3 separate regions of the Homo sapiens genome follow, and all the other regions are linked to region 3. The links come from fine-mapping of genetic effects on gene expression. A gene starts in region 3. Each other region holds a variant in brackets. All regions are shown on one strand. Distances are from middle to middle.

Region 1 (9,978 bases), 41 kb after region 3:
AAAACTTGATAGAAAATTAAAAACATGAATATAACAAAAGTTTTACTTCTAATATTATGACTGAAGAGACTATTTTACACAAAATTTTACATGAAGCCTATAAAAATACTCTGTGAAGATGTAACACTATCATTCTATAAAAGTAATACCTTTTACACCTAAGTGGATGACGTGTTCAAGTGCAAAGTGACACCGTCTGCTTGTGGTCCTGCAGGAAAGAAAACCACATAAAATAACTAACCTTACATTCAGAAATATTAAGGCTGGCATAAGGTAATGAAAATTTTATGATACAATCTTTAAGTCAATATAAAAAAATCACAGCAACAATCCAACAATCAATGAAATAGAGAACAGAAAAACACTAGAGAGGACGGGCGCGGTGGCTCACGTGTGTAATCCCAGCACTTTGGGAGGCCGAGGTGGGTGGATCACCTGAGGTCAGGAGTTCGAGACCAGCCTGGCCAACATGATGAAACCCTGCCTCTACTAAAAATACAAAAATTAGCCAGGCATAGTGGTGGTGCACGCCTGTAATCCCAGCTACTCAGGAGGCTGAGGCATGAGAATCACTTGAACCTGGGAGGCAGAGGTTGCAGTAAGCTGAGATGGCACCACTGCACTCCAGCCTGGGTGACAGAGTGAGACTCTGTCTAAAAAAATTTTTGTAAAAACCACTAGAGAATACCAAAGAAGCCAAAAAAAAAAGCATGGGACAAAATCCCACACCCATTCTTTCTTTCTTTTTTTTTTTTTTTTTAGAGACTCTGCTCTGTTGCCTAGGCTGGAGTGCAGTGGCACAGTCAGAGCTCACTGAAGCCTCAAATTCCTGGGCCCATGTGATCCTCCCACCTCAGCCTCTCAAAGTGCTGGGATTACAGGTGTAAGCCACCACACTTGGCCCCATATCCATTCTTGATTAAAAACTCACTAAAATAAGAATCTATCTCCTCAACCTGATAGAGGGCCACTACGGAACCTACCACCCACGCTGTACTAACTCGCTCAGGACTGACAGCCCTGCCCCTAAGACCAGGGACAAAGCCAGTGCAGCACTTGCCACCACTTCTATTCCACACTGGCACACAAGTTCCAACCAGCGCAGGAAGGCAAGGAAAACAAATACACAGCATCCAAATAAGAGAAGAAGAAGTAAAACTGTCTTTGGTTTTTTTTTTTTCAGACGGAGGCTTGCTCTGTCGCCCAGGCTGGAATGAGTAGCGTGATCTCGGCTCACTGCAACCTCCGCCTCCTGGGTTCAAGCAATTCTCCTGCCTCAGCCTCCCAAGTAGCTGGGATTACAGGTGACCACTACCACGCCCGGCTGATTATTTGTATTTTTAGTAGAGATGGGGTTTCCCCATGTGGGCTAGACTGGTCTCAAACTCCTGACCTCAGGTGATCCGCCTGCCTTGGCCTCCCACAGTGCTGGGATTACAGGTGTGAACCACCACACCCAACCTAAAACTGTCATTCTTTGAATCAATGATTATATATGTAGAAAATTCTACAGACTCTAGGAGAAGCTACTGGAGCTATTCAGTTTAGGAGACTTGCAGGATACAAGGTAAACATACAAAAATCAATTGCTTTTTATAAATACTAGAAACAAGCAATTAGAAATTTAAGTTAAATTTACTGTTTATAACAGCCATTTAAAAATTTTAAATAGGTATAACTGACAAAAGATCTATAAGACCTATACACTGAAAAGTATAAAATATTGCTAAAAGAAATGAAAACAGATGCAAATAAATGGAGAGACATACCCTTTTCAAGGGCTGGAGGACTTATTATTATTAAGATTTCAATTCTCCAATTCTCCCTTAAACCGACCCATAGGTTCAATGTAATCCCAATCAAAATCCCAACAGGCTTTCTGTAGAGACTGACATGACCTAAAATCCATGTAAGAAGAAAGACCTGGAACAGCCAGACAACCTTGAAAAGGAACAAAGTTGGAGGCTTGATACTACCTGATTTTGAGACTTATCATAAAGGCACATATCATACACTAGGTTTGTGTTCCCCCCAGCTTCGTATGGTGAAACTTCATCCCCAATGTGATGTTACTGGGTATGAGGAGTTGAGGCCTTTGGCAAGTGATTAGGTCATGAGGGTGGGGCCTCATGAATGGAATTAGTGCCCTTACACAAGGGAGCACAGAGAGCTCTCCCATCCCTTCTGCTGCGTGAGGACACAGGGAAAAGACAGCCGCCTACGAACCAGGAAGCAGTCTCACCAGGACACTGAACCTGCTGGTGCCTTGACCTTGGGCTTCCTGACCTCCAGAGCATGAGAAATACATTTCTGTTGTTTATAAGCCACCCCATCTATGGTGCTATGCTAATGCAGCCTGAGTGTACTAAGACAGACAATAAGACCCTGTAATGTTGGTGTCAAGACAGACAAGTGTACAATGGAACACAACAGAGAGTCTTCAGAAACAGATCAACAAATATTTGGTCAACTGATTTTCTTTTTTTTTTTTTCACAAAGGTACAATAGTAATTCATTGGAGAAAGGGCAGTTTTTTCATCAAATAATGCTTGGACAACTGGATGTTCATTCCACCCTCCAATTTCCATTCATACCCCACAAACAATTTGCAAAGCTTAATGAGATAGATCATAATCCTAAATGTACAGGATAAAGCTGCCAAGTTTCTAAACAGGATAAAATCGTTGAGATCCAAATTAGTTACAGATTTCTGAGATGCATCATTAAAAGATCTGTGAAAGAAAACATTCATAAACTGGACTTCACCAAAATTAATAATTTCTGCATTTCAAAAGGCACTATAAAAACAATGAAAATACAAGCTGTAGTCTGAGGAAATATTTGCACAGACACGTATCTGATAAAGCACTGTACTGAAACTATACAAACATCTCTGCAAACTCAATCATGAGAAAACAATTTTTTAAAATGGGCCCAAAGACTTGAGGAAGGACTTCAACAAGTATTTTGTACAAATGGCAAAAAAGCACATAAAAAGATGTTCAGTGGCCGGGTGTGGTGGCCCACACCTGTAATCCCAGCACTTTGGGAGGCCAAGGTGGGCAGATCACAAGGTCAGGAGATTGAGACCATTCTGGCTAACACAGTGAAACCCCGTCTCACTAAAAATACAAAAAAAAAAAAAAAAAAATTAGCCGGGCGTGGTGGTGGGCACCTGTAGTCCCAGCTACTCGGGAGACTGAGGCAGGAGAATGGTGTGAACCTGGAAGGCAGAGCTTGCAGTGAGCCGAGATCGTGCCACTGCACTCCAGCCTGGGTAACAGAACGAGACTCCGTCTCAAAAAAAAGAAAAAAGAAAAGATGTTCAGCATCATTAGTCATTAGAAAAATACAAATTAAATCCACAACGAGATATCCCTTCACACTACAAGAATCAGCTCTGTTCCAGAGTCAAAGCAGGTCAAGGAGTCCAGGCCTGGACGTCGGCTGCAGTCTCTCTAGCTGCCATGATGGAGGCTGTGTGCCTTCTACCAGCGCTGCTGCTCCCTGTGGTCCCAGCCAACCCTCACACGTCATCATCCAACACAGCTGCCCCTTCCTTCCCATTCCTGGGTCTTCTCATGGCACTCACATGCTGGGGTCTCTCATCTTGCACAGCAAACAAAAAGTACCCCCCTCCTGGTCCTCCTGTATCTCTTTGGTCACCAATTTCTCTCGCTCTCTCTCCATCCTGCCCTCCCTGCTTTCATCGGCAAATGCCTTAAAAAGGAATCAACGACATTTCTCCATTCCCCCGTAGTCCATTCATTCATTCTCAATACATTCCAATCTGGCTGTAGCCCAAATACTGCCGATTTCTCAGACAGACATAAAAAGCACTAATATTAAAAAAAATTTGATAAATTTGACTATATTAAAACTAGCACCTTCTGTTAATAAAAAGACATATATATATAAAATTTATTTATTTATTTATTTTTTGAGACAGAGTCTCGCTCTGTCTCAGGCTGGAGTGCAGTAGTATGATCTCAGCTCACCGCAACCTCCGCCTCCTGGGTTCAAGCAATTCTCCTGCCTCAGCCTCCCAAGTAGCTGGGACTGCAGGCATGTGCCATCATGCCCACTAAGTTTTGTATTTTTAGTAGAGACAGTGTTTCCCCATGTTGGCCAGGCTGGTCTCGAACTCCTGACCTCAAGAGATCCACCTGCCTTGGCCTCCCAAAGTGTTAGGGATTACATCACACCCAGCCTCAAAAGATACTTTTTAAAAAGCTAAAAGATAAGGAAGAAATCTGGAGAAGATATGTACCTAAGAATAGTTTATCATAAGGAATACAGAAAGGACTCCCACAACAATGAAAATTGGATAAATTACTCAATAAAAAAGAGGGCAAAAGACGCAAGCAAGCATTTCATGGAAGAGGAACATTTTACGGCCCACGAACAAGAAGATTCTCAGCCTTGTAAATAAGTCAGAGAAAAGTAAATCAAGACCATCATGAGATGCATTACACACCTACCAGACTGGCACCAATTAGGAAGTCGAACAAAATCAGATTACAGAAAGGGCACCGATCAGCAGGCTGTTATACACATGGATACTGAAAGTCACTGATGCAACCACTTGTAAAGCTGGAAAAACCCCAAACCCAGCAATCCCATCCCTACATACACAGCAGCTCTAGGAACAGCAGCAAACAATCGTAACAGCAAACAATGAAGATGTCCATCAACAGAAAAACAGCGGGTATTCACACAACCGCAAACCAATGAACAGCAGTTACAACAACACGGAGACATCTCAGGAACACAATGTTTAGTGAAAATCTCGACTCCTAGGAACCAAATACAGCAAGTTACTCCTTTTCTAAAGTTCAAAAGAATTAAAACTGAAGAATACATTTTTTGTGCATGACTAGTTAATGGTTTTGTGGAGGAAGAAAAAGCCAGCTGGGTGCCAGGTCACAGCACCCCTCATCCGACAAGAAAACAAATAAAAGTAAGGAGCTGGTAGCTGACGGTGACAGTGAGGCATGAACCAAAGATCCGGTGCACATGAGATCTGGGAAAGAATACACATGCAAATGTATGCACCTTTATATCTCAAAAAATAGTTGATAATAAAGCTAGAAACACGGGGTATGCAAAAATGCTGTAGGAGCCCACTTCCATCCACAAGGCCTATACACGTCAACCACAGGCATGGTGGGGGCTCCTACGTCACTACTTAGATGTCAACAGACATACTCAAGAGAACACTGTCCAATTAAAGATAAAGAGACAAATTAACTGGGCATGGTGCCTCATACCTATACTCCCAAAACTTTGGGAGGCTGA[C/G]GCAGGAGGATCGCTTGAGCCTAGGAGTTTATGACCAGCCTGGGACCCCATCTCTATTAAAAAAAAAAAAAGATGGCCGGGCGTGGTGACTCACGCCTGTAATCCCAGCACTTTGGGAGGCCAAGGCAAGCGTATCACAAGGTCAGGAGTTCAAGACCAGACTGGCCAATATGGTGAAACACTGCCTCTACTAAAAATACAAAAATTAGCCAGGCGTGGTGGCAGGCACCTGTAGTCCCAGCTACTTGGGAGGCCGAGGCAGGAGAATCGCTTGAACCTGGGAGGCGGAGGTTGCAGTGAGCCGAGATTGCGCCACTGAAATCCAGCCTGGGCAACAGAATGAGACCCAGTCTCAAAAAAAAAAAAAAAAAAAAAAGACATTTGAAAGAAGACTCACTAAAAGCATTACCTATTATATGTAAATTCCACATCCATAGGTTCAAAGTTATAGGCTTGTTCAAATTCTGGATTAATTTTAAGAGTTACATCTTCTTCATGAATCTAAAAAAGGAACAAACAATATACCTGATTTCTTGAAATAATGTGATATCTTTATCTAGCGACACATCATCAAAAATTCATTCTATAGCTCTGAGCTAAAATTTGATATCTGCAAAATTAGTTGAAAAGGATTAAATCATTACGCCATTCGATTATACAAACAAGAGGAAATGGATCACTACACACTCATACTTACTGAACTTCTATTCACTTGGCTGTAGCCTCTCCTAAGGCTCTGAGAATAGAGAATGTGTGGGAGGTCACTGACTCCATAGGACACAAACAAAACAACCACAAGGGTAGCCAAGTGTTACCTACTGTAAGGAAGCCTCGATAAGAAGGTCTGCTGGGTGCGGTGGCTCACACCTGTAATCCCAGCACTTTGGGAGGCCAAGGTGGGCGGATCACCTTGAGGTCAGGAGTTTGAGACCAGCCTGGCCAACGGGGCGAAACCATCTCCACTAAAAATAGAAAAAGGACCCAGGCGTGGTGCTGGGCACCTGTAATCCCAGCTACTTGGGAGGCTGAGGCAGGAGAATCTCTTGAACCTGGGAAGCGGAGGTTGCAGTGAGCCAAGATCGTACCACTGTACTCCAGGCTGGGTGACAGAGTGAGAATCCATCTCAAAAAAAAAAACAAAAAAAACAGTCATTACAAGACTTATCCTTTTAGTAGAAAAGCCCTCCAGCTAAAGCAAGATCCTGCATGATCAGTTCTGCATATTCTTTCCTAGACAGTATGGGTAGAAAAATAAGAAGGAAAGCCCTGATCTGAAAAGGAGCTCAAGCTCTTCTCCAGGTGACTCAGGCAACACCCTGGTAGGGTGAGTTTCCTGAGGGTCAGGGCTGACACCAGCAGAGAGTCGGGAAGCTACGCCCTGGGATGGCTTCCAGCTCCGGGAGGAAGGGAAGCAACAGTGGTACAGGGCCATGGGATTGTTTCCCCTGAGGATGAGGAAGACAGACCAAGTCCTGACTATACACAGGAGACATGCGTTAGTCTACTTGAGAACAGGTGCAGGTGGCATCCAAGAAAGCCTGAAAAGATGAAAATAATTTTTGGAGCTAAAAAGGATACGGAAGGTCATTTCAGATGCCAGGGTTTGATCAATGGCATGGAGGCCCGGCCATATGGCTCAGGAACCAGGGGTGGAGGCAGGCAGGTGCCTTCCTCCTGAGATCTCTGGCTCTGCTTCTTTGGAGGTTTTGGTATGCAAAGCTTCCTTTCTTGGCACAGCTGGTCTAGGAGGCTAAGATGGTCATTCGGCCATCTTGGGCTCCTCATGTCAACTTGGTCAACAGCAAAGGTGGGTAATGGAGAGCTGGCGAGGTCATGTCACTCGTGTCTCACATCTCAGTCCACAGGCGATGGCCTAATTCATTACAAAATCTCTGAAATCCTGCCAAGATGTTGTCTTCTGGGAAATATCCCACTCTGTGAAATCAGCCACAGCATGGACCCTGCATGAAGGTGTAGCGCAGAGTGACTGTGGCATCAAAGGTCGGAAGCTGCCTCTTCTCCAGATCCTTATCAGGCTCTTCTAGTTCTCTCAGCCCTTCTTCCTTCTGACAGTAAAGGCTCTGGCATTCTCCCTTCAAGTTTTCTACATTAAGTAATGTGTGGCTTCATCTTCTCTGATGCACAGATAGAGCACCTCCCTTCTCATGCAGATCCCAGTATCACTCCCAGTGCTATGACCAGTACATGACCAGTAAAGTCCAGCCCAAGAGTCACAGACCACCCCATGCAGAACCATCTGGAGCACCAGGATCTACTCAAAGCCAAAAAAACCACCTTCACGCAAACATCAGAGCTGCAAACTCATAGGTGTATTTTTCCTTTCAAGGCCTCCACTCTGCGAGCTCTTCTGGAATACATTCAGAATGCCCAAATACAACTCAACGCAAACCTCATGACTTACATATAACCTAAAAGATAAATATGTTTTACATGGTTGAAAATTATAGTATTAAGTTTCCTTTATGCATCAAAAATTATTTAAAGATTCACTGTATCTTGACATTTTCCAAAATAGCCAATGCATATGGGAGCATCTCCCCAAGAGCCGTGGGGAGAACGTTACCTTTCCAACCGGTCAGAAGGGTGTGTCTAACACAAACTCATTAAGAGAGAGTGCTCTCACCTCAGTCACGTAGCTGATGTATTCGATGGCATGTCCATTGTACTCTTGAGTTTTTAAAATCAGTTTATCACCTAGTTAAAAAATATATTACCATGTTTAAAGCTAACACAAAATCACAAATTTCTGTGCTGTCCTATAAAATCCAACACTGAGGAGGTTCAATAAAACGTTACTGGGGTCAGGCTGGGTGCAGTGGCTCATGCCTGTAATCCCAGCACTTTGAGAGGCCGAGGCGGGCGGATCACAAGGTCAGGGGATCGAGACCATCCTGGCTAACACGGCGAAACCTCATCTCTACTAAAAATACAAAAAAAAAAATCAGCCGGGTGTGGTGGCGGGCGCCTGTAGTTCCAGCTACTCGGGAGGCTAAGGCAGGAGAACGGCGTGAACCCGGGAGGCAGAGGTTGCAATGAGCTGAGATTGCGCCACTGCACTCCAGCCTGGGCGACACAGCGAGACTCCACCTCAAAAAACAAACAAACAAACAAACAAAAACATTACTGGGGTCAACTGCTTACAACTAATGAAATACAACAAAGAAACATGCTTGATGTACATCGGTTGCTGATTTTTAGTGAAATTCTAACCCAAAAGAAAGAAAATGCGATAATGTGACTGTCATATTGCCAGTTAAAGAGTATCTTCTCTCAAGTATGGTTTCTCTGCTAGTCCACCCAGGGAAGCATATGAGTAACAAACACACCTGCGTAGAGAGAAGGCCTCCCTTCGGCCAACCCTGGGACCTCCAGAACCAGCAGATCCCCATTCCTTCTTAAGATGATCCCGCTCATGTTATACTCTTTCAGTTCCATTTCTGCATAAATCTCCTCAAGCCACAGCAAAGTCGAAAACTTCTCCTTGTAATTTGACATGTTCAGAAGCTGGAAAACACCCAAATGTTATAAAGTCAGCAACAGCTCAGCAGCACTCTGGAAAGTAGCAGCTCCGGAGCAGGAAAGTTCCAACAGCTCCAGTTCAGCAGATGGCCCCCCAGGTGGGGCGATCCTCGCCGGAGTCTGCAGGTGCCTCAGTAAGTTCCCCGGCCTTCAGCACGAGGGCCATGGGGCTCCAGCACACTCCCTGGCCTTTGGCATGAGGCAGTGGGGCTCCAGCTGGCGGTGTCCCTCCCTGCACTGCCCACTCCTGTCCACCCTCCCTGCTCTTTTTCAGGTTGTCCACGTTAATTCTGGGAAGGCAGAATTTGGCTTCCACAGACATCTGTGAAAAAAGGACAAACTTCCAGGTCTGGCCAAGGTGGACTAACAAGGACCAGATTTACCCTTCTACCTGAAAAAAACTTAAAGAGACAGAGAAATAAGAAACGATGGTGTTTAAACAATGAACATCACGTAGCAAAGGATTGTGATCCCAAGACTGGGGAAACAATCCATGGGGGCCCCATGACTGATCCACCTGTGCCTGAACAGAGCTCCTAGGCCCCAGCACAGAGGACCCAGGGATGCTGCATGGTTTCTAAGGAGAGGAGCTCTGATCTGTGGGGCTGAGCGCTGGGAAGAGCAAGCAGCACAGAGTGGTCTGGAGAGGGTCAGGGGACCCACTCAGGACCATCAGCTCAGCACTAAGGAATGCATGAGACACCATCCTGCAAAACCCATTGAGGGGCCAGACCAGGGCCTCAGCATGAGGTGGGGGAAAACTCACAGCAGCCTGCCCGGAATTGGAAAGTGGGAGGGCAGAAAGTGCGTCTGAACACATGGTGGCTGAAAATTTCCAAATCTGAAGAAAACTCAAGGCCGCATATTCAAGAATCCCAATGAACCCCAAGCACAAGAACAGGAAGAAAAGAATCTCTACCACCACACATCGTAAACCAAATCTATTAATATCAGTGATAAAAGAGAGAATCTTAAAAGCAGCTAAGAAAAAACAACGTTATGTGCAAAAGAGCAAAGATAAGAATTAAAGCAAAAGAACCCCATAAGAAAAACTAAAAAATACTTAGGAGATGAATAAAAACAAAAACACAATACAGCAAGACTTATGGGAGCAGCACAAGCAGTGCTGAGGGAATTTGT
Region 2 (9,978 bases), 53 kb before region 3:
TTGTGGATGGGCCGCATTTCCACCTGGCCCGGTGGCGGGGTGTGGCTCACAGAGGCCCATTGCTTGGAAATGGAGCCCAGAGCTGAGGCAAGAAACAAAGCGCTGTTCCCAGCACTGGTGCCCCTCAGGCCCTGGGCACGGCTGCGTCCATGTGCCTGGCCGCCCTCCTCCCAGCCTCTTTGCCCACAGGCCTTCACCAGTGGCCTGAGGAGGTACCTGCAGTATTACCGGGCCTGCGTCCTTTCCACTCCGCCCACCCTGAGCCTCCTCACCATTGGTTTTCTCTTCAAGAAACTTGGCCGGCAGCTCAGGTGAGCCTCAGCATGGCGGCTGAGCAGGGGACTTTGCGGGAGCGGTGTGGGGCTTGCTGGGTGGTGGAGGGTTTGCCCTGCTCCCTGGCAAGGAGGGCCTGTGAGAACAGCCCTCAGCAGGCGACCGGATGGCCCTTGGCCGGCCGAGTTCACCAGGTGCCCGGTGCTGAGCGGGTGTGTCTGCCGTGGGCCCACCACAGCTGGCCCCATCCAGGCCCTCCAGGTCCGGTGGCTCCTGCCTAATTGGCACACAGGGTCCCTGGAGATGTGGCGTCCGGTACACACAAGCTGGTTAGTGAGCAACCAGGCTCGGGGGCTATTGGCAGGTGCCATCAGAGAAGGAAGAGTGAGGAGCTGGGCATTGGGAGCAGTGGGAGAGGCGACCTTCCAGGCTGAGGAGCAGAGTGTGGCAGCGCTGAGGAGACCCAAGGGCTGAGACACTGTGGGGCAGGGGAGCTGGGCTGTGAAGGGTGCGAGTTGTGGCAGATGCTTGGTACCACTGTGTGGATGGGAGGGGCTCTCAGGTGCAGCCCCCAGAAGTGGGAGGATCAGGGTGATTCGTGTGTTGGCCAGATCCTGGGAGGGAGGGCCTGCTGGGTGTGGGTACTTCAGTGGGGTGTGTGTGGACAGCGCAGGGGCACAGGGCTGCACACGAGTCCTGCAGGGAGCCCGTTTCTGGGTGGTTGGGGTGCCTGTGGTTTTTAAAGCCTGCATCTAAAGTTAGTTGCCCCAGGGAGCATAAAGATACGTGGAGACTTTGCTCACGATCTGATCCAGGCCTGGGAACCCTGAGCCCGGTCACCTGGTCTCATCCTGCCTCTGGGTCTAGGTACCTGGCCGAGCTCTGTGGCGTTGGCGCTGTGCTCCCGGGCACCTGTGGAGGAGGCCCCAGGGCCGCGTTTCCCACCGTGAGTTGTGCGTCCCTGCCGAGTGTGTCAGCCTGGTGGGCTCCAGGAAACGGGGGTGGCTGAGCGTGTCCCTGGAGGGCTGCTGCCGGCAGGGCTGCGCCTCACTCCCAGCGCTGGGTGCGCTGAGCTGCCCCCCACCCCCTTTGCGGTCTGCAGGGCGTGAAGCTGCTGTCCTACCTCTACCAGGAGGCTCTGCACAACTGCAGCAACGAGCACTACCCTGTACTGCTGTCCCTGCTGAAGACCAGCTGCGAGCCCTACACCCGGTGGGCAGTGGGCTGGGCAGGCGCGGCGGGCGCGCACTCCCACCAGGCAGACACTTGAGAGCGGTCCCTTGTCAGACACCTGCTGAATGTGGGGGTCACACAGGAAGGGGAGGGCAGGATAGGTGGACTGGGCAGGAGCCCCCAACCCCCCACCCTGCCCCCACTCCACACCCCCCACCCTGCCCCCACTCCATCCCGCCCCTCATGGATGGCCACACCCCACTCCACCTCTCACAGCTACGCCCCCACTTGCCCCTCACTGACAGCCACGCCCCTGTCCCACCCCTCACTGACAGCCACGCCCCACCCACCTCTCCGTTGACCACATCTACCCCTGCTTTTCCCCCACTGCAGGTTCATCCACGACTGGGTGTACAGCGGGGTGTTCAGAGACGCTTATGGCGAGTTCATGATTCAGGTGAACCACGAGTACCTCAGCTTCCGAGGTAGGTGGCAGCTGATTGCGGGGCAGGGGTCCGTGCCTGTGGGCCTGGGTTCAGGGCCATGGCCATGCCGGCCACCGTGGTGTTCACCCTACCTTAGATAAGTTGTACTGGACACATGGCTACGTGCTCATCTCCAAAGAGGTGGAGGACTGTGTTCCCGTGTTTCTGAAGCACATTGCCCACGACATATACGTCTGCGGAAAGACCATTAACCTGCTGAAGCTCTGCTGCCCCCGGGTGAGGAGGGGCTCATGTGTGGGGAAGAGAGGGGCCGGTCTTCCCTGGGGCTGAGTATGAGGCTGGGGCTGAGTGCTGGTGGCTGTGCTTGCATCCCCTTTGGCAGCATTACCTCTGTTGGTCCGACGTCCCTGTCCCCCGGATCTCGGTGATTTTCTCCCTTGAGGAGTTGAAGGAGATTGAGAAGGACTGTGCCGTCTACGTTGGGCGCATGGAGAGGGTGGCCCGCCACAGCTCTGTCAGCAAGGAGGAGAAGGTGCGTGGCACCACAGGTCTCGGGGGCTTTCTTCGCCCCTGCCTCTGCTTCCTGGGGTCTCAGGTTGGTGGGGCGGACATGAGGGCTGTGCAAGATGGGGGCCTCCCTTCTGGCATTTTCTGTCCTGGCGGTGGCCTGGGTGGGTGCCAAGGGGGAGTTGAGATGAAGGGTGGGTGTCAACGGGGAGTTGAGATGAAGGGTGGGTGCCAAGGGGGAGCTGAGATGAATGTCCGGAGCCAGATGCCAGGCAGGGGCTCTGACTTCTCCTCCTGGGTCTGGGTGGCTCAGCCTGAAGCCCAGGCTTTGCTGGCGTGGGAAACTCCGTTGGGGCCTCCCCGGGCCCGCCAGCTGTGGACAGACAGTCCTGGCTGCACTCCAGATGGCCTTCGCCCTTTGCAAGCCCCCTTCCTGCTGGGAAGGGACAGTGTGTCAGGGACGGGCCACGCCTCTCCTGTGTCTTCTGGGAGGGGCTCGGTGGTACAATCAGTGCCATTCCCAGGAACACCCTTTCTGGCCTGGTGCCTGGTGGGCAGCAGGGATACTTGGGCAGGGGCAGGCCTAAGAGGCTGAGCGGGGAAGCCCCCTCTTGAGGCCTCTTGGTTTCCTTCCAGGGTGGGCACACACAGCCTTGGGGTCCTCAGCCCCAGATGTCTCTGTGAGAGCCGGTCAGCTCCCGTCCATGGCCTGGAACCAGCCTTGCCACTGCTGAGAGCCTGGGGGTGGGGGAGGGTGGGCGGGGGGGCGGTGTCCTGCCATCACCTGGTCCCTCCTCGAACCCTTGGACCATGTGTCTCCCCTGCCGGCCCTGAGTCCACAGGTGTCCTGGGCATCCTAGGTGAGGGGTCAGAGGATTAGGTTGCTTTTTTTTTCTTTGAGACAGGGTCTCACTGTGTCAGCCAGGAGGCTGGAGTGCAGCGGCTCGAACATGGCTCACTGCAGCCTCCACCTCCCAGGCTCAAGGGATCCTCCTGCCTAAGCTCCCCTGACCCCCGCCAAATAGTTGATACTACAGGCACCTGCCACTACACCTGGCTAATTTTTGTATTTTTAGTAGGGATGGGTTTTTGCTATGTTGTCCAGGCTGGTCTTGAACTCTTAAGCTCATGTGATCTACCCACCTCGGCCTCCCAAAGTGCCAGGATTACAGGCGTGAGCCACTGCGCCCGGCCAGGATGCTTTGATTACCAGTTGTCTTTCTCAGGAATTACGTATGGAAATTGCAAAACAAGAATTAATCGCTCATGCCCGGGAAGCAGCATCCAGGGTCCTGAGTGCACTGAGTGGTGAGTGGCCCCAAGTCCTCCCTTCTGCAGTTCCGGGGGGCCTTGCTGGGGCCTCCTTGTGACAGTGCGCCCCTTACTGTCCCAATGTAGACCGGCAGATGTCAGAACGGATGGCCTTGGATGCCCGGAAGCGTGAGCAGTTTCAGAGGCTGAAAGAACAATTTGTGAAGGACCAGGAGGTGGGTAGGACCTGTCCCTGCGGGGTCACGCCTGTCAGTTCTGATTTCACAGGCCAGGCTCTATGTGTTTTATAGCGACGCCAGGCGGCCAGGCAGGAGGAGCTGGATGATGACTTCAGCTACGCCCGTGAACTCCGAGACAGGGAGAGAAGGCTGAAGTCCCTGGAGGAGGAGCTGGAGAGGAAGGCGAGGTAGGGCAGCCCGGGCTCCAGGCCCAGGGGTGCAGTGCGGCAGGGGCCCCATAGCTCTGGCTTAATCTTACTGATGATTTTACTTTTTGTTTTGAAAACCTTCAAACATACATTAAGGTAGAAAGACCAATATGCTGAACCCAGAGTGGCTGTGGGCGTTCTGCCTTATCCAGGCATCCTTAGCTGTTCTGCGCGTTGTCTTGTGGTGGTTTGTATGGATTAGGGTCCAGGCGAGGCCTGCGTACTGTTTGGGGTCCTGTCTCTTTATTTATCTTCTTTCTGAACATCCTTCCTTATTTATTTTTAAGTCTGTTATTGGTCTGACAGAGACAGGGCGTTTTTTTTTTTTTTTTTTTTTTTGGAAACAGAGTCTTGCTCTGTCACCCAGGCTGGAGTGCAGTGGCACAATCTCGGCTCACTGTAACCTCCGCCTCCCAGGTTCAAGCAATTCTCCTGCCTCAGCCTCCTGAGTAGCTGGGGTTACAGGCATCCGCCACCACATCCAGCTAGTTTTTTGTATTTTTAGTACAGACGGGGTTTAACCATGTTGGCCAGGCTGGTCTCAAACTCCTGACCTCAGGTGATCCACCTGCCTCGGCCTCCCAAAGTGCTGGGATTACAGGCGCGAGCCACCGCGCTCGGCTGAGACAGGGCATTTGTCCAGCACAGCATCTGCGTCTGTCTCCCTGTGCTGTTATCA[A/G]CCTGTCCTGTGCTGTCATCAGGCTGTCCCAGGCTGAGTAGTGCTGGATCCTTCAAGGGGCTGTTTGGGGTTTTGGAGAGAGCCCCTCACGGGAGGGGCTGGCCGCTTCCTGCTCAGCCCCACGCGATGCTGTAGGTCCCAACCTTAGATCTCTTTATGGAGCGAGTGAGGGATGTGTGTGGAGGGGTGCGCGTGCCTGTGTGCACGTGTGTCCGTGTATGCATTTATGCATGAGTACGTGTTCATGCATGTATGTCAGTCGATACTGTCCTGTTAACACATGGAGAAAACCAGGCCTAGACACTACGTCTCTGGCCTGTGGCAGCCAAATTAGAGCTGGCCAGTCCAGGTTTGAGCCCAGTTGCCTGCTGGTGAGAAGCTCAAAATCATGGGGCACGATCGGTGAAGCAGGCTTTGAATTCAGCAAATAAAGCGTTTGTGTTGGTTTTGCTTCATGTGCTTTTTTGCATTAGTTTTCAGTTCTCAGGTTTGTACCTGTAGAAGGGGAAGAGGCCTAACTTCTTAGAGGCCTGGGGCCCTCGGCCTCCTGCTCACCCCTTGCTTCAGGCCACACAGGATCTCATTCTGGTATTTGTCCAGCAGATGTTGCTGAGCCCTGGCTGGACGCTGACTCACCAGGGTCTCCCAGCCTGGCAGGTAGAAGGGCCTGCCTGGTGCTGCCCTGTAGGTGCTGTGAGGGCCCAGAGCTATCAGCCCCTGGTAGGGGGAGACGGGGGCGGGGGCCCACTGGGGCCTCTGTTATGGAGAACCATCCTGGCCTGAGGGGTGCCAGGTAGATGGGGTGGGGTGACTCTTGTGGCCGTGTCCTCTCTGGTGTGTGGCTTCAGGCAGGCACTGGTCGACCACTACAGCAAGCTCTCTGCAGAGGCAGCTCGTCGGGAGCAGAAGGCACTGTGGAGAATCCAGAGGCACCGACTGGAGAGTGCACGGCTTCGTTTTCTCTTAGAAGATGAGAAACACATTCAGGTATGTCTGCGGCTTCAGATGGCAGCTCTTCCCCTGGGCTTTGGGGGTCTGGAAACCCCCTGAGACTGCACACAAACCTACATGCTCTTCTAGGAGAGGGCTGGTGGCTTTCGCGTTTGCGGCAGAGCACTCTCTCTCCCCGTGTGCCACCAAATTGCACAGATACAGGTGGTGAGGAGCTCGTGGTTTTGGAGTACTTTTTGCAGGCCCAGCGTCCCACTGGAGCCCAGCACAAGCCTTGTCTGGTTCAGTGCACATGGCTGCCATGGGCGGTAGGGGCTGTGGCTTTGTGTGGGGTAGGGCTGTGCTTGACTCCGGCTTGGCCAGTCACCCCTCTGGCTTGAATTTCAGGAGATGCTGAAAGCAGTGTCTGAGGCTCACCAGCCCCAGGAGCCGCCAGACGTCCTCTTGAGCGTGCACCCCCAGGTAAGCGGCAGAGTGGAACCCAGGGTGCCCTATGGTTTTCCCATAGCCCTCGGCACCTGGTGTTGGTCATGGCTGCAGAGCTGAACTTGGGGGACAGTTCGAGGGCTGGGGGGTCCTGAGACCAGACTGGGTCTGATGTCACCTGTGTTTCAGGTCACGTCTCCGGGCCCTGAGCACCCAGAGGGAGGCCAAGGCTGTGATTCTGGGTCTGCAGAGCAACACTCGCCTGCCTGGGATGGCTGGAACAGGCCAGGCCTGCTGACCCCACAGCCCCTTAAGCCTCTAGCAGTGGGGGCTGGTGGCAGGGGGCTGCAGCAGGCGGAGGGGGCCAGACCCTTCTCTGACAGCCTCAGCATTGGAGACTTCCTACCTGTGGGCCCAGGGGCTGAGCCGTCCGTGCAGACTGGCATGGTCCCTCTCCTGGAGGTGGCGCTGCAGACCATTAACTTGGACCTGCCCCCCTCAGCTCCTGGGGAGGCACCCGCAGCAGCCAGCACTCAGCCCTCCAGGCCACAGGAGTACGACTTTAGTACTGTCCTGAGGCCAGCTGTGGCCACCTCACCTGCACCAGGGCCCCTGCAGGCTGCAGAGTGCAGCTTGGGCAGCTCAGGGCTACAGCTGTGGGAGGACAGTTGTGGGAAGATGGATGCCTGTGGCTCCGCCTCGCGGGAGACTCTGCTCCCCTCACACCCACCCAGGCGTGCTGCTCTGGAGGAGGGGAGCAGCCAGCCCACAGAGCGGCTCTTTGGGCAGGTGTCAGGGGGTGGTCTTCCCACAGGGGACTACGCTTCTGAAATAGCTCCCACCCGGCCACGGTGGAACACCCACGGGCACGTGTCTGACGCCAGCATCAGGGTCGGGGAGAATGTGTCAGATGTGGCTCCCACCCAGCCACGGTGGAACACCCACGGACACGTATCCAATGCCAGCATCAGCTTAGGGGAGTCTGTGTCAGATGTGGCTCCCACTCGGCCACGGTGGAACATCCATGGACATGTGTCCAACGCCAGCATCAGGGTCGGGGAGAATGTGTCAGATGTGGCTCCCACCAGGCCACGGTGGAATACCCACGGGCACGTGTCCAACGCCAGCATCAGGGTTGGGGAGAACGTGTCGGACGTGGCTCCCACCCGGCCACGGTGGAACACCCATGGACACGTGTCCGATGCCAGCATCAGCTTGGGGGAGTCTGTGTCAGACATGGCTCCCGCCCGGCCACGGTGGAACACCCATGGACACGTGTCTGATGCCAGCATCAGCTTGGGGGAGTCTGTGTCAGACATGGCTCCCACCCGGCCACGGTGGAACACCCACGGACATGTGTCTGACACCAGCATCAGGGTTGGGGAGAACGTATCGGACGTGGCTCCCATCCGGTCACGGTGCAACACCCATGGACACGTGTCCGACGCCAGCATCAGCTTGGGGGAGCCTGTGTCGGATGTGGTTTCCACCCGGCCACGGTGGAACACCCATGTACCCATCCCTCCGCCCCACATGGTGCTGGGGGCTCTCTCACCAGAAGCTGAGCCCAACACACCCAGGCCCCAACAGAGCCCCCCTGGCCACACGTCCCAGTCAGCGCTCAGCCTGGGAGCACAGAGCACTGTGCTGGACTGTGGGCCACGGCTGCCTGTAGAAGTGGGGCCATCTCTGTCCTCCCCCAGCTCGGGCTGCGGGGAGGGGAGCATCAGCGTGGGGGAGAACGTGTCAGACGTGGCTCCCACCCAACCATGGTGGCCCAACACCCCGGGAGACAGTGTCTCTGAAGAACTAGGTCAGAGTAGGGTGGCTGGTGGTCAGGAGTGGGACTGTGGGACGCACAGAGCCTGGGAGGTAGGCGGGCAGTGGGGTTGGTGGCATGTGAAGTTCCCCTCAGGCCTCCTTGTCAGCCAGGACCTGGGCTGCTGTGGGGGACATGGGAGGGGCTGCTTGAGCCAGGGCCGGCTCGGCTCTGTACCCGCCACAGGCACTCGGCCCTGATGCCCTCGTGTCCACTTGTGTCCACACAGGCCCTGGGAGGAGCGGGGACACTGAGGACCTCTCTCCAAATTGGCCTCTCAACTCACAGGTTAGGTGGATGCAGCCTGGGGGTCCCACAGCAGGCAGGGAGGGCTCTGTCCCTCTAGGTTGTCACGCGGGTGGGTCCCACATGCGATTTTCCTTTTTTTGGCACAAGCTGGTTGTGGGGACAGCGTGCAGTGGGGAGGTGGTTCTGAGGCTGGTGTTTTGTTAGGAAGACACAGCTGCCCAGAGCAGCCCAGGCCGTGGTGAGGAGGCGGAGGCATCGGCGGCGGAGGCTCAGGGTGGGGAGCAGGCCTACCTGGCAGGCCTGGCAGGGCAGTACCACTTGGAGCGGTACCCGGACAGTTACGAGTCCATGTGTGAGTGCAGCAGTTGCTGTTGGCAGGGAGCCCTGGGCTGGCTGGTTCCCAGCACGTGCTCCACCTCCTGTGGGTTGGGGCGGAGCCCTGGGCTAGCCAGTTCCCAGCACGTGCTCCATCTCCTGTGGATGGGGGCGGAGCCCTGGGCTGGCCGGTTCCCAGCACGTGCGTGCTCCATCTCCCGCAGCCGAGCCGCCCATTGCTCATCTTTTGCGCCCCGTGCTTCCCCGGGCCTTCGCCTTCCCCGTGGACCCCCAGGTCCAGTCTGCCGCTGATGAGACTGCTGTGCAGCTGAGCGAGTTGCTGACGCTGCCCGTGCTCATGAAGCGCTCCATCACGGCACCGCTGGCCGCCCAGTGAGTGCCCCTGCCCCTGCGCCAGTCTGCCCACCCAGCCCGTCCTGGCCCGCCCTGACTCCAGCTCCCTCCTGCCAGCATCTCCTTGGTGAACAAGGCCGCTGTCGACTACTTCTTCGTGGAGCTGCACCTGGAGGCGCACTATGAGGCACTGCGGCACTTCCTGCTGATGGAGGACGGCGAGTTCGCCCAGTCCCTCAGCGACCTGCTCTTTGAGAAGGTGGCCTCCGGACACGGGGTGGGGCCAGTGGTAGAGGGGAGGCCGTGGGAAAAGAGAGACTGGCTGCACGCCCACAGCCCCCTGCTGCTCTGGCACAGCCCCATGGGGTGCCGGCGAGTGCCAGGCATGTGCTTGGGACTCCTGGGGACGGTGGTCCCTTTTCTGCCTAGCTTGGAGCTGGGCAAACGCCCGGAGAGCTGCTCAACCCGCTGGTGCTGAACTCTGTGCTGAGCAAGGCCCTGCAGTGCAGCCTGCATGGGGACACCCCGCACGCCTCCAACCTCTCCCTCGCTCTCAAGTACCTGCCCGAGGTGTTTGCCCCCAACGCCCCGGATGTGCTGAGCTGCCTGGAGCTCAGGTACAAGGTCAGCAGCAGCCCTGGCCGCGGGGGATGGGACAGGGGCCTGCCTGCCTGTGGGATGCCTGCTGAGCCACGCCTCCTGGCAGGTGGACTGGCCTCTCAACATTGTCATCACCGAGGGCTGCGTGAGCAAGTACAGCGGCGTCTTCTCCTTCCTGCTGCAGCTGAAGCTCATGATGTGGGCGCTCAAGGACGTCTGCTTCCACCTCAAGCGCACAGGTGAGGCCCCGCTGGAGCCCGGCGCCCCGCACCCCTGGCTGGAGGCTGCGCTCACCTCTGCCCTCTGCCTTCTGCCCTCCGCCAGCCCTGCTGAGCCACATGGCCGGCTCTGTGCAGTTCCGTCAGCTGCAGCTGTTCAAGCACGAGATGCAGCATTTCGTGAAGGTCATCCAGGGCTACATCGCCAACCAGATCCTGCACGTCACCTGGTGCGAGTTCAGGGCCAGGTTGGCCACCGTGGGCGACCT
Region 3 (9,978 bases):
GCTCTGGGGCAGGGGGCGGCCTGGCCTCCTCCAAGGTGGATGAAAGCAGGGGCCCCACACCGAGCCACGTGTCTGGCGAGCTGCCCCCACTGTGCGGAGCCCCACTTGGACCCGAACTCCTCATGCCTGTCACTGTCTCCCTGCCGGATGGCGGCAGCAAGGGGAAGCCAAGTCCTGCTTGCCACTCCGACCTCAGTTTCCTCATCTGCTCCACCAAGGATACTGCCTTGACTCACTGCAGGTGACCGGCCCGGCCCTTTGGGGGCCCCAAGGCATGTCCAGCAAGGCTTCCCTCCTCCCTGGACCCGCTGCACCTGCAGGGTACAGGGTGCTCCTGGCAGCCTCAGCAGGTCCTGACGGACTCAAAGCTGTGCTGGCAGCCGGGCCTTTCCCGGTGGATGCTGCCACAGCTTCTAGCAGGGGCTGCCAGGGCCGGGGGTGCTGGCCTGACTCGGGGTGGGGCAGCAGAGAGGGGCTGCTGAGCCCAAATCCACGGGCCCATCCCACACGCAGCGACTGCTACGGGTCCTCTGTCCGAGGCCCTCCTCTGGGACTTCCCAGGGACAGTGGGACCCTGCCTGGGCCAGTGCAGGTGTCCAAACGGAAGGCAGGAAGGCCTGGCCCATCCAACAGGGCAGACAGAGCCGCCGCCAGGGGCCCGTTTCTTGGAAGACATTGCTGTGTGGATCCTGGCCATGCCAGCTATGCCCCGAGAGGACACTGGCTTCCCAGCCAAGGAGCCTGTCCACACCCAGCCCTCAGAGCCCCAGTGACAATATCAGAGTTGGCAGCCAGGGGCCTGGTGCTGCTTGGAGCACCTCTGAGCGGGTGTCTGAATACACCCCAACACGGCCCATATTCCCATATTCAGAATGCCGTCCCCAGGACCCGAGGCTAAAGCCCAGCCCCCCCGGCCCTCCCCCAGTCCTGCCCTTCTTCGGTTCTGCCATCCCCAAGCTCATCTCCAGCCCACCCCTGCGATCTGGCCTGCACATGGCCCCAAGGTGCCCCCCAAGGGTGAAGCTGGGTCCCTCCCAACAGCCCTTTCCACCCCTGTCCTCCCACCTGGGGAGTGGGGACACCTCTCCAGGACACCCCTGGCTCTGCGCAGCCTCCTCCTGCCTGCTGGCCAAACCCTGTCTGGTCACCCCAGACCACTGCCACATCCTGGAAGCCCTCAGCCGAGGCCAGGCCCTGGCCCTTCCCCGACTCCCCTGGCCTTACAGACCTCCACATGGGGTCTGCAGTGAGCAGAATCATGGCCCCCAAAGATGCCACATCCCAACCCCGGAGCCTGTGGCGGTGTCACGTTTCCCGGTTCACGAGGACTTTGCAGACATGCCTAGGCTGGGGGTCTTGGTGGGCAGCAATTGCAGGGTTCTTCTAAGAGGGTCAGAGTCAGGGAGGAGATGTGAGGACAGAAGTGGGGCTGGGAGAGAGAACGCCACGCAGCCGGCTCTGAGGACGCAGGAAGGGCTGCAAGGCCAGGAATGTGGAGGCCTCTGGAGGCCGGAGAAGGCAGAAAGTGGGTTCCCCCTTGGAGCCAGCCCTGCTGACACCTTCGTTTTAGCCCCATGAGACTCGCATCTGGCTTCTGACTTGTAGGTTTGTTCCAGCAGCCACAGGAAGCTAATCCTGGCGGTGGCTGCGCACCTGCTACATTCTCCACTCTCTGCAGGCTGAGGGGGGCCGAGACCCTTCCCCAGCCCACCTTGGAGACCCTGGGACTTGGCCCCCAACCTTCGAGGGTACTGCATCCTGAGACAGCAGCTGGCCACACGGGCCCTCAGGCCCAACCCTGCCCTGCGGCATCAGGGGCTGCGCTCGGCCCTCCAAGGATGATGAAGCCAAAAAGAGGAACCAGCCCATAGGCTCCTGGGAGGGTGCTCGGGGGCAGAGCGCTCGCTTCCTTTCCGCTTTAAAGAAGAAAGTTGGGCCGGGTGCGGTGGCTCATGCCTGTAATCCCAGCAATTTGGGAGGCCGAGGCGGGCGGATCACCTGAGATCAGGAGATCGAGACCAGCCTGGCCAACATGGCAAAACCCCGTCTCTACTAAAAATACAAAAAATGGGTCAGGCACGGTGGCTCAACGCCTGTAATCCCAGCACTTTGGGAGGCCAAGGTGGGCGGATCACGAGGTCAGGAGATCGAGACCATCCTGGCCAACATGGCAAAACCCCGTCTCTACTAAAAATACAAAAAATTAGCCGGGCATGGTGGCGGGCGCCTGTAGTCCCAGCTACTTGGGAGGCTGAGGCAGGAGAATGGTGTGAACCCAGGAGGCGAAGCTTGCAGTGAGCAGAGATCGCGCCACTATACTCCAGCCTGGGTGACAGAGCGAGACTCTGTCTCAAAAAAAAAAAAAAAAAAATGAGCCAGGCGTGGTGGCGGGTGCCTGTAGTCCCAGCTACTTGGGAAGCTGAAGCAGGAGAATCGCTTGAACCCGGGAGGCAAAGGTCGCAGTGAGCCGACATCGCACCACTGCACTCCAGCCTGGGTGACAGAGCGAGACTTTGTCTCAAAAAATAAAAATAAAAAAAGCGGGGGGGTGGTGAAGAAGAGAAAAGGGCACAGTGGCTCACGCCTGTAGTCCCAGCACTTTGGGAAGCTGAGATGGGAGGATCACTTGAGCCCAGGAGTTTGAGACCAGCCTGGGGAACATGGCACAAAAATTAGCTGGGTGTGGTGTGGGATGCCTGTGGTCCCTGCTACTGGGGGCTCGGGGCTGAGGCAGGAAGAACACCTGAGCCCGAGAGGTGGAGGTTGCAGATCGCACCACCGCACTCCAGCCTGGGCGACATACCAAGACTCTGTCTCAAAAAAAAAGGAAATTTGGACACAGACAGGGAGGGAAGAAGCCCATGAGAAGACAGAGGCAGAGACTGGTGGCACGGCCACGAGCCAAGGCGCCCAAGGATTGCCGGCAGCACCAGAGGCTGAAGAGGCTGGAATGTCCCTTTCCTAGAGCTGTGGGAGGGAGCAGGGCCCTGCCGACACCTCGATTTTGGACTTTTGGCCTCCGGAACCATGAGAGATAAATGTCTGCTGTTTGAAACTGCCTAGTTTGCGGTACTTGGTTGCTACAAACACAGAGAACACACGTGGTGTCTGGACATGCTGGGCCTGCCCCAAGGCCCCACCGCACGCCTGGGCTCCCTGCTCTGCAGAGTGTGCTGTGTGCCCACCCCAGGGGTCCTCTAATCCCCGGGGTCTGGCCTCCAGTGTCGAAGAGGAGACCAGCAGAGGCCTCCTCCACCCCTGGGTGGGATCAGACAGCCTGGCCAATGTCCACCCTCAGGCCTGGTGTCTCCAGGCCACGGGGACTCCTTAAGGCAAGGCATCTGGGAGATTTGGGAAGCGCCAGTGCTGAGGCAGGGTCTGCTGAGGTTTGGAGGCTGCAGAAGAGAGGGCCCCAGGGTCCCAACACCCCTCCCCGCTGCAGACTAGTACCTCTGGGCCACACAGGCCAGGAGACCCTGATCCCCCTTGCCTTGGCCCAGACCCCAGGGGAGGAAGTTCTCGGCTCCACCTGTCTCGCCCCACTCCTTGGGGAGGGCAGAGGCACCAGGACCCCACCCCGCAGAGGCTCACAGGCAGGCTGGCTGCTCTGTCCATCTTCCTGCCTCGCCTGGGTGGCTTCAAGTGCCCCCACAGGTCCTGATCTAACCAGCGCGGGTCCCTGCCCTGGTCCAGCCCCCATCTCCCTGCAGGAGCTCCAGGCTCCCTGCTCTGACACGTGGCCCTGCCCCATGCTAGCCCCCCTGCTTCAAACCTTCGGAGGCCCCCAGTGCACCCGGAGAGGCCTCGCCCTGCCTGAGGGGTGGAGGGCCTGGGCCTCTCAGAGACTCTCTCTGCCCTCCTTCCACCCAAGTCCAGCCTGGGAACCCTGCCCGGCAGCTCCACCAGCCCCTGTAATCAGCTCTCTGCTGTCAACACCCATCCCGGCCTTTCCTGGTCCCCACCTGGCCACCCTGCATCCCCTCAGGCGCTGCTTGTGACATTCTCCAAACCAGACCCCGTGTCTCATGACATTTGGGACCCCTGGGTCCAGACAGGCCTAGTCCCACCCGCGGCCATGGGCGGACGAATGGAAGGAAGAACAACAATAAAATAGAGACGAGGGGTCTGTGCGACCAGCGACACCTGCTAGGATGGGGGCGGCTGTGGAAGGTGCCTGGGACGCCGCGGACGCAGCCAGGCCACGGTGGGCGCGGCTGGACGGAGCCGCCGGGGACGCGGGAAGCGCCAGCTCCCGGACACCTGCGGACGCCCCCTCTGCCCGCGCCCCGCGCCCCGGCCGCCGGCCTCACCTGCGAAGTTCTTGGTGAAGACCAGGGTGACCAGCAGGATGGGCACCAGCACGGTGCCGATGGTGACCACCCGGTCGAACGGCAGCTCCAGCTTCAGCTGCAGAAGCAGCGCGGCCAGCGCGCCCGCCTTGTCGTCCTGCGCGCCCGGCAGGATCAGCTCCCGCAGCTTCTCTCCCGCCAGCAGCGCGGTCGCCATGTCCGCCGACTGCTCCAGGAGGTGGTGCATGGGGGGCGGGGGGCGCGGCCCGGCGGGGGGCGCGGGCGGGGCGGGGGGCGCGGGGCGGGGCCCGGCGAGGGGGGCGCGGGCGGGAGGGGACGCGCGGCGCGGGGGCGGGGATCGGGGAGCGTGGGGGCGCGGGACGGGGACGGGGCCGCGGGCCGCGGGAGAGGGTGGCAGGGGACGCCGGGACCGAGCGGGGGGCTCCGGGGGATGGGAGTAGCCGGAGGCGCGCGGCGGGTGCGGGGCTGGCCGGGCGCGGAGCCCGCAGCGGGGTTTGGGGGGCGCTCCGCCGCCGCCCCCGGGGTCAGGGGGCGGGCGGGCCGGGCCGGGGCGGCGGCGGGGGGCACCGGAGCCGCCCGCCTCCGCCGCAGCCCGGCCCCCGCCCTGGCGCGTGCCTCCGGCGGGGGCGGCGGCGGGATCCCGGCCCGGAGCGCGGGCGGCGGCTGCTGTCCCTGCCTGGGGCCGGCGGCCCCGCTCCCGCCGCGGGGAGGGGGCTGTTTACCTGCGGCGACTCCGCGGCGTGGCTCCGCCCCACCCCGCCCCCCGCCACGCAGATGCGGCGCGGGCGATGACTTTGCAGAAAATATTGAAATGAAATGAAAGGACATGAATGAGTAATGACCGGTCCCTCTTCCTGGGAACGCGGGGTGGCTGGCGGGGGGCTGCCCCGGCCCGCGGGAGGGTGGGCAGGGGTGGGGGCGGCCCTGCGGGGCTCCGGGCTGGGGCGGGGGCGCCGCTCGGTGGCGACGTGAGGACTGGGCGCGCGCTGGGGCTGCCCCCGTCGCATCGCAGGGCCCTTCGCCCAGCCCAGGGCGCAGAGGGGGCTTCCTCGCCTGGGCCCCCCACCTGCCCCGGCCGCGCCCCGCTGTGGGTCCGGAGGTTCCCGCGCTCCTGGGGTGCTGCGGCCACTGGCGGGGAAGCCGGCGCTCTCTTCTCTGGGCTCGGGCGCCAGTGCGCGGGCAATGAGGGCATCTCCCCGCCCCACACCCTCCACTGCAGCCCCGGCCCCACCCGACCCCCCCACCCAGTACCCCCAGTCCCGCCGCCGTGAGTGACCCCATCACCCCCGCTCCTGCAGCCCGCACCTCCTTCCCCCACGCCCCATCCCGTCCCCTGTTCCACAGACGTTCCCGGGGCCTGTGCCAGCTCAGGGGGTCCCCGCCGCCTCCCTGACCTTCATTCCCTCCGCTCCCCACAGCCCCGCCCTCCGTCCTGTTCTCCCTCGGGGAGCCGGGGGTCTGGCTTCAGACGCGGGCGCATCCCGCGTGGTCCCTGCCTCTTCGAGGCAGCCGTTTTCCCTCGTGCAGGTCCCCTTCCCACTATACCAGGACGAACGTGCACGATCTTTCATATAAAAGATTTAGTGTGATTGGAGTTTTAAGTTCATTCAATAATTCATTCCAAAAATGTATTTTGAGCCCGTGTTCACAGGCCCGGCCACTGCTGTGAGCAAACCAGGAGGTCCCCCTGCCTCCCTGGGCTGCGTAGGGGATGTGTCTGCTTTGAGCTTTCACGCCGTCTGCGTTTTTAAAGATCCTTGCATGTTTTCTGAGGGATGCCAGCCCCTGACTTCCAGCAAACTTCATCCTGAGGCAGGCAGTTCAGCTACATCCAATCCCAGCACCCAACCACCCAGTCACCCCAGATAAACCCAGTCACCCCAAATAACCCAGGCACCTCCAGATAAATCAGCCCTGGCAGATAACCCAGTCACCCTGACAACCCAGGCACCCCAGATAAACCAACTCACCCCCCGATAACAGTCACCCCTACCAGATAACCCAGTCACTGCCAGATAAACCAGTCACCTCCCAAATAACCCAGTCACCTCTCACATAACCTATTCACCCCAGATAACCCAGTCACTGCCAGATAAACCAATCACCCCAAATAACCCAGGCACCCCTCACATAATCTATTCACCCCAGATAACCCAGTCACTGCCAGATAAACCAGTCACCTCCCAAATAACCCGGGCACCCCTCACATAACCTATTCACCCCAGATAACCCAGTCACTGCCAGATAAACCAATCACCCCAAATAACCCGGGCACCCCTCACATAATCTATTCACCCCAGATAACCCAGTCACTGCCAGATAAACCAGTCACCTCCCAAATAACCCGGTCACCTCTCACATAACCTATTCACCCGATAACTCAGTCACTGCCAGATAAACCAGTCACCTCCCAAATAACCCAGTCACCTCTCACATAACCTATTCACCCCAGATAACCCAGTCACTGCCAGATAAACCAGTCACCTCCCAAATAACCCAGTCACCTCTCACATAACCTATTCAACCCAGATAACCCAGTCACTGCCAGATAAACCAGTCACCTCCCAAATAACCCAGTCACCTCTCACATAACCTTTCACCCCAGATAACCCAGTCACTGCCAGATAAACAATCACCCCAAATAACCCGGGCACCCCTCACATAACCTATTCACCCCAGATAACCCAGTCACTGCCAGATAAACCAATCACCCCAAATAACCCGGGCACCCCTCACATAACCTATTCACCCCAGATAACCCAGTCACTGCCAGATAAACCAGTCACCCCAAATAACCCAGTCACCTCTCACATAACCTATTCACCCGATAACTCAGTCACCCCCAGATAACTCAGTCATCCCAGATAAAATCATCATCCCCAAATAACCAAGTCACCCTTCAGGTAACCAGATAAACCAGTCATCTCCTAGATAACCGAGGCACCCCTCAGATAACCCATCCCGTATAACCCAGTCACCCCCAGATAACCATCACCCCAGAGAACCCAGCCACCCCTCACATAACCAAGTCACCCCCCCTCCCCGACAACTCAGTCACTCCCAGATAACCCAGTGCAGTGAGTTCCAGCCCCTCCGAGCGACCCGAGTGTGGCTGCTGGGTGGCTGCCTTTGTTTTCCAGATGCACTTTCTGCTTTCGCATGGGTGCCTCTCCATGCTTTCCAGAAGTGCTCGGCCAGTCCATGCTCTCACCATCCCTGTCTTCTTTCCAGCTCTCAGCCCTATCCACCTTCTAGTATCTGCCATTCTCGGGGGGAAGGGGGGGCGGGTGTAGCTTCCAGGTGCTTTGAGTTTATCTCTAGCGGTTTGTGTGCACGCTCTCTTCAAACCCTGAGCACTGCATCACTGGTCAGAGCTCACTGTAACCCTGAACTCCTGGGCTCAAGCAATCCCCCCACCTTGACCCCCCAAGTAGCTGGCATTATAGATGCACGCCACCATGCCCAGCTTTTTAAAATTGTTACTATTATTATTATTTTTTTGAGACAGAGTCTTGCTCTGTTGCCCAGGCTGGAGTGCAGTGGCGCGATCTCGGCTCACTGCAAGCTCCACCCCCCGGGTTCACACAATTCTCCTGCCTCAGCCTCCCAAGTAGCTGGGACTACAGGCACCTGCCACCACGCCCAGCTAATTTTTTGTATTTTGTTTTTAGTAGAGACGGGGTTTCACCGTGTTAGCCAGGATGGTCTCGATCTCCTGACCTCATGATCTGCCCACCTCAGCCTCCCAAAGTGCTGGGATTACAGGCATGAGCCACCACACCCAGCAATTTTTACTATTATCTTTTGAGACAAGGTCTCACTCTGTTGCCCAACCTGGAGTGCAGCGGTGGGATCTTGGCTTACTGCATCCTCCATCTCCTGGGCTCAAGGGATCCTCCCACCTCAGCCTCCTGAGTAGCTGGGACTGCAGACATGCACCACCACACCTGGCTAATTTTTTTGAGAGATGGGGTTTCGCCATGTTGCCTAGGTTGGTCTCGAATTCCTGGGCTCAAGTGATCCTCCTGCCTCAGCCTCCCAAAGTGTTGGGATTACAGGCATAAGCCACTGCACCTGGCCTTAAAATTTTTTTATCTGTAGAAACGGGGTCTCACTATATTGCCCAGGATGGTCTCAAACTCCTGATCCCCCCACCCCCACCCAACCCAGCCTTGGCCTCCCACAGTGCTGGGATTGCAGGCATGGGATTACAGGTGTGAGCCACGCTGGGACTGCAGGCATGAGCCATGCTGGGATTGCAGGCGTGAGCCACGCTGGGATTGCAGGCGTGAGCCACGCTGGGATTGCAGGCGTGAGCCACGCTGGGATTGCAGGTGTGAGCCACGCTGGGATTGCAGGCTTGAGCCACGCTGGGATTGGAGACGTGGGCCACGCTGGGATTGGAGACGTGGGCCACGCTGGGATTGGAGACGTGGGCCACGCTGGGACTGGAGACGTGGGCCACGCTGGGATTGCAGGCTTGAGCCACGCTGGGACTGGAGATGTGGGCCACGCTGGGACTGCAGGCGTGGGCCACGCTGGGACTGCAGGCGTGGGCCACGCTGGGACTGCAGGCGTGAGCCACGCTGGGATTGCAGGCGTGGGCCACGCTGGGATTGCAGGCTTGAGCCACGCTGGGATTGCAGGCTTGAGCCACGCTGGGATCGGAGACGTGGGCCACGCTGGGATTGGAGATGTGGGCCACGCTGGGATTGCAGGCTTGAGCCACGCTGGGATTGGAGACGTGGGCCACGCTGGGATTGCAGGCTTGAGCCACGCTGGGATTGCAGGCGTGGGCCACGCTGGGATTGCAGGCTTGAGCCACGCTGGGATTGGAGACGTGGGCCACGCTGGGATTGCAGGCTTGAGCCACGCTGGGATTGGAGACGTGGGCCACGCTGGGATTGCAGGCTTGAGCCACGCTGGGATTGCAGGCGTGAGCCACGCTGGGATTGCAGGCGTGGGCCACGCTGGGATTGCAGGCTTGAGCCACGCTGGGATTGGAGACGTGGGCCATGCTGGGATTGCAGGAGCCATGCTGGGATTGCAGGCGTGGGCCACGCTGGGATTGCAGGCTTGGGCCACGCTGGGACTGGAGACGTGGACCATGCTGGGATTGCAGGCGTGAGCCACGCTGGGACTGCAGGCTTGGGCCACTGCACCTACTGCATTTGTTTTGCATGTTACGCCCCTGCCTGGGGCAGCATCTGGGCCACAGCACCTTTTCAGTGAACAACGATGGTTATGAGTGGGTGTGATCTTGCCTGCCTGTTGAGCACCACTGGCCAGTCACTGTCTCGCAGAGGAAGCGGTGGGAGCTTGACAAGAAGAACGCCTGTGGCAGAGCCAGGGCCTGGACTCAAAACTCGGCAACTTGGCTGCCATCCTCATTCCCGGTGAGTGGAACGGTGAGCAAAGGTCCATGATGACACCCTGGCCGCCCAGCCTGTTACCCTCCTCAGGAGGATGTGTGGCAGGAGTGAAGGGTCCACCCCTGCGGTCTTCACACTCCAGTGGCCCAGACTGGAGGACAGTCTTCCCAAATCCCGTATTATGGGAGCAGCTGCTTCTTTCTCTTGGTGATACATTAACATGAGATTTCAACACATGGAAGGATCTTGAAGACGATGCGTGCTGTGCAAAGCTTGTATTCCCATCTCTCTCTTTA

Direction of the effects. Positions count from the first base shown, and alleles are read on the strand shown. Sizes are in standard deviations (SD) of each study's normalised expression. Not every link is listed here.
For the expression in nucleus accumbens of the gene that starts at base 4,536 in region 3, A is the high allele of the variant in region 2 and G is the other (small effect, 0.30 SD a copy in GTEx).

What was found. PIP is the estimated chance that this variant, and not a neighbour inherited with it, causes the effect.
Region 1: its variant is the best candidate, but not a certain one, in a credible set for the expression of PANX2 in lung (TOPMed, PIP 0.63).
Region 2: its variant is the best candidate, but not a certain one, in a credible set for the expression of PANX2 in nucleus accumbens (GTEx, PIP 0.83).

What each region holds. Positions count from the first base shown.
Region 1 is chr22:50,124,237-50,134,214 of GRCh38, reverse strand. MOV10L1 (Mov10 like RNA helicase 1) reads right to left here. Exons shown (of 27, transcript NM_018995.3): 11 at 8,646-8,823; 12 at 7,943-8,013; 13 at 5,708-5,799; 14 at 150-208. Among named protein-coding and RNA genes, the nearest start is that of MOV10L1, 39 kb to the right of the region's middle. The variant C/G (reference allele first, on the strand shown) is at 5,299.
Region 2 is chr22:50,218,240-50,228,217 of GRCh38, reverse strand. It overlaps TUBGCP6 (tubulin gamma complex component 6), which reads left to right. Exons shown (of 25, transcript NM_020461.4): 5 at 190-311; 6 at 1,141-1,219; 7 at 1,376-1,485; 8 at 1,840-1,931; 9 at 2,029-2,168; 10 at 2,275-2,424; 11 at 3,626-3,707; 12 at 3,798-3,886; 13 at 3,962-4,077; 14 at 5,626-5,764; 15 at 6,116-6,190; 16 at 6,344-7,967; 17 at 8,203-8,261; 18 at 8,427-8,574; 5 more. Among named protein-coding and RNA genes, the nearest start is that of SELENOO-AS1, 13 kb to the right of the region's middle. RefSeq lists an enhancer at 7,981-8,623. The variant A/G (reference allele first, on the strand shown) is at 4,778.
Region 3 is chr22:50,165,289-50,175,266 of GRCh38, reverse strand. PANX2 (pannexin 2) reads right to left here and starts at 4,536. Exons shown (of 3, transcript NM_052839.4): 1 at 4,311-4,536. The coding sequence starts at 4,536. RefSeq lists enhancers at 3,011-3,703, 9,028-9,579 and a silencer at 5,303-5,362.